Linked DNA regions of Homo sapiens. The protein of the gene in region 1 interacts with the protein of each later gene in a biochemical or structural test. Each region holds a gene or a part of one and is shown on either strand. Other genes may lie near its edges. The genes, in order: DEXI and POLI.

What was found.
Region 2: the proteins of DEXI (region 1) and POLI form a complex in vitro, tested with the Homo sapiens proteins (one large-scale study listed by BioGRID).

What each region holds. Positions count from the first base shown.
Region 1 is NC_000016.10:10,936,063-10,939,883, reverse strand, and holds part of DEXI (dexamethasone-induced protein), read left to right. Parts: intron 1-1,762; exon of another isoform or gene 1,763-3,251; intron 3,252-3,489; exon of another isoform or gene 3,490-3,821.
Region 2 is NC_000018.10:54,275,699-54,279,519, reverse strand, and holds part of POLI (DNA polymerase iota isoform a (long)), read right to left. Parts: intron 1,818-3,821; coding exon 1,665-1,817; intron 1-1,664. UniProt on the Homo sapiens protein: Error-prone DNA polymerase specifically involved in DNA repair. Plays an important role in translesion synthesis, where the normal high-fidelity DNA polymerases cannot proceed and DNA synthesis stalls. Favors Hoogsteen base-pairing in the active site.

The DNA.
Region 1 (3,821 bases):
CAAGCCTTGGCCCTTTGGCACTTGGTGAGGAAGACTAGTAGGAACCCAAACAAGAGAATCAGATTTTTTCGGAACTATGAAGGCAGGCAAGAAGGACATGAGCTTCCCTGTTGTGTTCACTGCCATGTCCTCAACACTTAAAACTGTGCCTGGCCTCTAGTAGACGGTCTCTGTAGGTGTAGACATGGAGTGAAACAGAAGTGAAACGGTAGGATAGAGATGGTGGGCTGCTTTAGCTGAGGGGTCAGAGAAAGCCTCTCTAAGGAGATGATGCTTTTGAGCTGAGCCTTAATTTGATAGAAGGATCTGGAGAAAAGCAGTCCAGGCTGAGGGAATCAGTGGTGCCAAGACCTTCAGGTGAGAGAGAGTTGGTTTTTCCGCAACCAAAAGGAGGCCCATGTGGCTGGAGAACAGCCCCAGGAAAGGTCAGTGAGGTGGGTGGGAGCCATACCATGGAGGACCTGGAAGGCCATAGCCAAGAGCAGTGGAAAGCCATTGGAAGGTTCTAGGCAGGAGATGACACAATCCCATTCCCATTTTGCAAAAATGACTCTGGCAATTGTGGACAGAATGAGCTGAGGGGTAAGAGGGGAAGCAGGGCCACCACCTCAGATGCTGTTAGTTGTCCAGGCCAGAGGTGACAGAGGCTTGGATGAGGGGAGTTTAGTGAAGATAGAGAAACATGAACAGACTGAGAACAACTCTCAAAAGTAGAACCTATGGAATCCATTCAAAATCTGTACTGAGCATTGATTGTATCGCACTCCTGTGTCTAGGCCCTTTGCATATGCACTCACTCATTCAACAGACTTTGACCCTGCCTGCTCTTCTGCCAGGCCGTGTGCTAAGGGCCTGCGATCCCAAGATAAATCCCTGTCTCCAAGCCAAGCATTTGACTTTGAAGCAGTGTAACTTGGTGAGGAACGTCTTATTTTATCTCTTTACCACATCAACAGAAACACTTCCCCTTCCAAATGAAAACATTGGCATATTCTGAACTAAAAACTGAATCCCAAATGCTTCGACATATTTTGCAGCAAACGCTGTTTAAGCAGAAACACCAGGAAATATCTCTCAGGGACACCCTTGCAAAGCTCTCGGGGTGTCAGGGCCTGACCCTGGGAAGTGGGGAGGCCTGGAGAAGTGGTGGAAGCCATGCACAGCCTTCCCTCCTCCCCACCCTCAAATCCAAGCCAAGGAGGCCTTGCCCCCAAGTGCCGAGGAAGCTCAGAACCCCAGGGTATGAGAGGGGTAGCTAGCAGCAGGGAAGCCGCCAGGAAAGACCTCAAGATGATCTGACCGAGCCTCATCTCCAGGCCCCTTTCCATAAGCAGGGGAACGCCGGTAGTCAGTCCTGCTCTTTCTCAGCCATTCTCATGTGGTCACATGTGTTCCCCACACGCCAATCCAGGAAACAGTGACTAAGGGCGTGGAGCATGTCACACAGTGGGGCCCAGGATGAATCTCAAGATGAACAGGTGCACCTACTTTTGCTCCCTCTTTTTTTTTTTTTTCTCTTATGTGTGGACCCACATAATTCAGTTCCTCAAACATTTGCTGAGCACCTACTTGAGGAGGCAGTATTAGGGTCATGGTTAAGAGCCAGGGCCCTGGGTTCACATCCCAGGGTAGCTGTGACCTTGGGCATGCTGCTTAACCTCCCTGTACTTTGGTTTCCTCTTCTAGAAGATGGAAATAATGAAAATCTCCCTTGTTGTGAGGATTAGGTGAGATATACATAAAGCACTTAGATCTCCTTGTATATAGTAAGAGATGTATTAATATTAACCACTCATATTCATAGTCGGATACAATGGAAAGCGTGTTATACCCATGCCCTTGCAAATGTACAAACCTGCACCTATACTCATGCATGAATATTTATATCCTGTGAGCAGAAGAGGACAGGCTGCCTGAGTGCCAGGGAGGTCCAGGTCTAGCCTAGCTGGGGGAGACTTCCCACTCTGCCTTCCCAGCCCCAGGACCCTTAGGAGAACTTTCTTGCTGCCCTGTGGTCCCCAGGGCACCAGAACCCTGGATAGCCGGCTCTGTGGTTTTCCTAGAGTGTTAATTGTTGCCCAGGAGCAGGGAATGGGGAATCGGGAGCTCCCTCCTTCCCAGGAGAAAGGGCTGCAGTGGCTGGCCTGGGAGCCAGGGAGAGTCTTCACGTCCCAGCAGTTCTGGTGCAGAGGCAGCTCAGTTGGATTATTCGTCCCGGTTCCTAATGAAAGTGAAAGCTGCTGGTACCTGCCAGCCCTCTCTTGGCACACAGCGAGCTGAAAATGCAGAGACTGGAGAACGTTGCCACCAGAGTCAGCTTGTCCTGGTGCAGCTCAGATTTGGAGCTGAGGGTTATCGATGCATTGGTCTATCTTATTCCAGGATTTCCTAGGCTTCAGTTATCTCCCAACTAGGAACCACAGCTGCTCCTTCCTAACCTGGTCCCTCCTTGCCAATCTGTGGCCTGTGCTATCAGCAGAACCCCTGTGCCGGACATAGAGCTGCCCAGGTCAGAAACCCAAACCTTCCACAGGGACACAGTCAGATTTGAGTTATGGGAGATCCCACAGCCAGGGGTCAGGGCGGATGCAGGAAACCAGGCCAGGAAGCTGTGGCTGTCATCTAAGCAAGAGACAGACAATGGTGACACAGGGAGGCAAGTATACCCCCAGGCCTGGCCACCTCTCCAGCTCTGCTCCTGACATGAGGCTCACCCAGAAGGTCCTTGGCCATAGGGTACATTGGTGCCAGCTGCGTCTTCAGACAGGAGAAAACCCCAGTATGTGTCTCAAGACAGTGAGATGTCAAGAGTCCTGCTCTCTTAGCCCTGAATTATACAAACTGGAGATTTCAGCCAAGAAACAGGCAGGGTCTGCCCCACTTACAGCTCATGTGTCTGTTTTGCCGAACTAAGAAAGTGAGGGCTTCTCTCAATTTGGATATTCATATTTCTGGTTTATCTGCTAGCTTTCCTCCCAGAACTTCTGAAAGCATACTCGGCTTTTGGGAAACCTAAGATCACAATAAAAGTGGCAGACCTCTTTATCCCTGTCTCACAAATAAATGGAGGCACAGAATGGGGAAGTGGAGGCCGAGGGAACAAAGCCAACTAAGACTGCCAGCCCGGTTCCCTGGCCACAGCACTGAGGGTTTGAGGGGTGCCTCCAGTGAGGGCTCCCCATCCCCGACCTTGGAACACCAGCTCATAGTTTCTGCCAGGCCTATTTCATACGCACTCTTCCAACTTTTTCCTGAATTAAAAACAAACAAACAAACAAAAACCTCTGTTATGAAGTAATTTCACACTTACAGAAAAGTTGCAAGAGCACAAACAATGCCCGCCCAAACTCACCAGTTGCACCAGTTAGCACTTTGCTCATGTACACGTGCATGCTCTTCCCTCTGTTTGTATATGCATGCCTGTGTATATGCACACATGTGTATATGTGTAATTTTCATAAGCATTTGAAAATGGGTTCATTATGCACCTTTACTCCTAAATAATTCAGTATTTATTTCCTTAGAACAAGGACAAATTTGCATAACCACAGTAGGGTTGTCAAAATCAGCAAATCTAATATTGATACACTATACAATCCTATGACCAATCTCATCTACAACTTTATTCAAATTTTATAGAGGCTGAGGTGGAAGGATCACTTGAGTTTGAAACCAGCCTGGGCAACATAGTGAGACCCCGTCTCTACAAAAAGTAGGAAAAAAAAAATAGCGAGGTGTTGTGGTACACGCCCATAGTCCCAGTTACTCGGAAGGCTCAGGCAGGAGGATTGCTTGAGTCCGGGAGTTCAAGGCTGCAGTGA
Region 2 (3,821 bases), on another chromosome or scaffold:
TATAATCCCAGCACTTTGGGAGGCCAAGGCAAGCGGATCATCTGAGATTAGGAGTTCAAGACCAGCCTGGCCAACATGGTGAAACCCCGTCTCTACTAAAAATAAAAAAATTAGCCGGGTGTAGTGGCACATGCCTGTAGTCCCAGCTAGTCGGGAGGCTGAAGCAGGAGAATTGCTTGAACCCAGGAGGTGGAGGTTGCAGTGAGCCGAGATCACATCACTGCACTCCGGCCTGGGCGACAGAGTGAGACTCTGTCTCAAAAAAAAAAAAAAAAAAAGAAAAGACATAATGGGTATTTTTTGTACTATTCTGTCAACTTTTCTGTAGGTTTACAAAAAATTTTAATAAAATCTGTATGAAAGAGGAAGAATTAATCAATAATTCCACATTTCCCTTTTTGGGATATAAAACCTAGCTCTCTATAATGTACTCTAACCAATAAAATCCAAGTTTGCCTTAAAAATTATACAGAAATATATTTGAAATATTCTTGCTAGTTAGCCCTTTTAAGTTACAAATGAGCACAAGTACAAAAGATACAGGAAAAGCTCCATGTATTCTAGAAACTGTGGTTCTACTGCTTTTCTTCTGTGGAGAACTATTCTGTAGACCGATGTCTAGTTCTCAAAAAAGAGGATAAGAGGAAATGCATGGGGAGGCTTAAGAGCAAAAGGGTCAGACAAGTCTTACACAACAGCAGAGTACCTTGTCTTGTATGTGGTATGATAGGGGAGTCACCAGCAGAGTCATAAGATGTCTGAAAGCCTAATCAGATATTCACTGGTGCTTACTGCAGCTTATTTTCAAATGTAAATATCACTGGAAACACCATCAGTCATTCATATCTCAATATATGAAGGAGACAAACCATTCTGCTTTCTTGCTAACTTTGACAAAGATTATTTGAACAGATTAAATAGGAGCTTGGAGAAGATTCTAGCACATGGCAGATAGCCCTGGACAACATTCCAAAAGTGCTAACTTGGGAATTCAGAGAGCAACATGAGGGTCTCAGGGGAATCGAAGTGAACATGTAAAACACACATCAAAGGGGAATCGAAGGGAACATGTAAAAGACACATCAAAGGCAAATCTAGCCTACCTGAAAACTCTGCTTAGAGATTGTTTTAGAATAATAAAAAATTATTCCAAAAAGCATATTAAGAAGCCAACTCTTACAACTTAAGAATGACCTACAGAGGTATGGCTTTTTGTTTCCTTAAGAGATGGGATCTTGCTCTGTTGCCTAGGCTGGACTCAAACTCCTGGGTTCAAGCAATCTTCTCAGCTCAGTCTCCCAAACAGCTGGGACTACAGGGGCGCTCCACTGTGCCCAGCTGGGTATGGCTTTCTAAAATGGGAACCAATGCACTGTGTCAGACGAAAACTCTGCACAGATGAATGCTCTGTGCAGATGAACAGGAACAATGCTCTGTGCAAATGAAAAGTGCACAGAGCATTGAGCTACATGTCATCAAAATCTTAACACTTATTATGGAATAGCAGCACCTAATTTTAGCTGTCCTAGACAGATTACTGACTAAATATAACTATACCTCCAACAAAAGTCATGAATCTTTCAGAATCACACAGCGAACTCACTGAACATTAAGAAATGTATGTACTTTTGGTTAGTAGGTAGAATGAATAAGAACCCACTCACACTGATTATTGTATACATGACCCGACACAGTCACCGCAGAAAGTTCATCACTTTGCAGCTGCTGTAGTCTCTTCTCAACCATTTCTGTTAGATCCACAAAATTTTCATCAAATCCAAGTCTCTCAACAACTGGACTAAATTCTTCCAGTAATTCTAAATTGAAATAATATTGGAGCACAAATGTAAATGAAGTTATAACTAGGATAAATTTAACTATCTAGTGCTTAAAAATTTATCAAATTTATTGTTAAAGGTTTTATATACATTCATAGTTCCATAATATCTTTAATAAAGCCCTCAGTTAATTGACGTTTTTTCTGTACCACATCTTGTATAAAGGCAATATTTTCAAAAAAGTCTAAAAATGACATTCCTAGGGCAGTTATTCATGGCAATATATCTAGCTCAATCTTCTACACCTATAATTTTTATATCTGTAGTACATTAAATATCAATGCTTATAGTAAATTGGTGACCTTGAAGAAATGTGTCAAAGAATAAACTATAGGCTGCTCAGGAAAGTTAAAAACAAGTAATAGTATATTTTAGCTATATTTTCTCCAAGAGTTTAAAAGAGGCAAAACAAAATAATATTTAAAATGTCCAATTATTACTGAATAAAACAGAAAGTCAGTCAACTTTCAAAATATACTATAACGTGGTATTTTTATTAGCCATTCCCAAGAATATTCCTTAGGACAGAGAGGCAGAGATGAACCACAACTTACAGGTATTCAAATGCCCAGCGTCTAGCACAATATCTAGTCCTCAAGTCAAATGTTTACTAGATTAAGCTGAACCAAAATTCAAAATAAATTCAAAAAAACTATCAATTTTCATATATTAACATTGAGACTAATAACTTTAAAATCATTGAGAAAGTTTTTCACTTCCCTCTGAATCACTTTCTACTGACACCAGCTGGATAAGAGAAAACAAATGCAAGTCTCTTAGTATACAAAAATGCATAGATTCTTAAGGTCATATAATCTGAAGCTCAGAAATAAAAGGACTATCTCATTCCACATAGATCATGTTTTTTCACAAACACCAAAGGTGCTTTTTTGTTTTGTTGATGTCAACATTGACAATGTGAGGGGAAACCAATAAAGGTAACAATGTGACATGGCAAACACCAAAAATCACTCCTGAGAAAACTATTACCTAGAGAAAACTATTACCTCCTTTCAGGACAGACTGACAATATGTCTAATCAAAGAAAATGATTGTTTTGCATTTCCTTCATCAATTTCGGCAATTTATTTTCAAAAGTATATACCTGATATGCAAAGTAACATGTAGAAAACAAGAGTTTATCAAAAGAATACTACATAAGAAAAATAAAGGATAAGGCTTTAAGCACTAAATAGAAAAGCAAGTTAAATACAGAATCATGCACGAAGCTGGTGGATCACTAAATATTGACTGATTTTAGGTCACAGGACAAATCCCTAATTATCCCGTCCCTGAAGGTTTTTGTTGTTGCTGTAGTTTTAATGAGACAGGGTCTCACTGTTGCCCAGGCTGGAGTGGAGTAGCACACCACAGCTCAGTACAGCCTTGACCTCCTGGGCCCAAGCAATCCTCCTACCTCGGCCTCTGGGACTGCAGGCACATGCTACCAGCTAACTTTTTTTTTTTTTAACTTTTGTAGAGACAGGGTCTTGCTATGTTATATTGCCCAGACTGACCTCAAATGATACCCCACCACAGCCTCCCAAAGTGTTGGGATTACAGGCATAAGCCACCATGCCCAGCCTCCATTCCTGAAGTTAACCTCTTTCTTGGTATCAACTTCATAAGCAAGATACATTTATTAAACATATAATTATATAGGGCCCAAAAGAGGAGTCTGTAATTACAGAAAAAAAAAATACCTTGAAGAAAGGTATATATGCAGTAGCATCAAAATATGAAATAAATAATAAGGTTATAAACAGATCAGAGATAAATACAGTAAAGGACTAACTGGCTACGCGCCTACTTCAACTCAGAAAAATACTGTGAGAAAAATTGATAAAGTAACTTTTTTCAAAAAATACCTAACACAAAAAGTACTAGGTACTTAGTACTTAGAAAAAGATGAACAACCCAAATTAAAAACAGGTGCAAGTGAATACGTTAACAGAAAAAAATACATAAATGACCAAAAATATA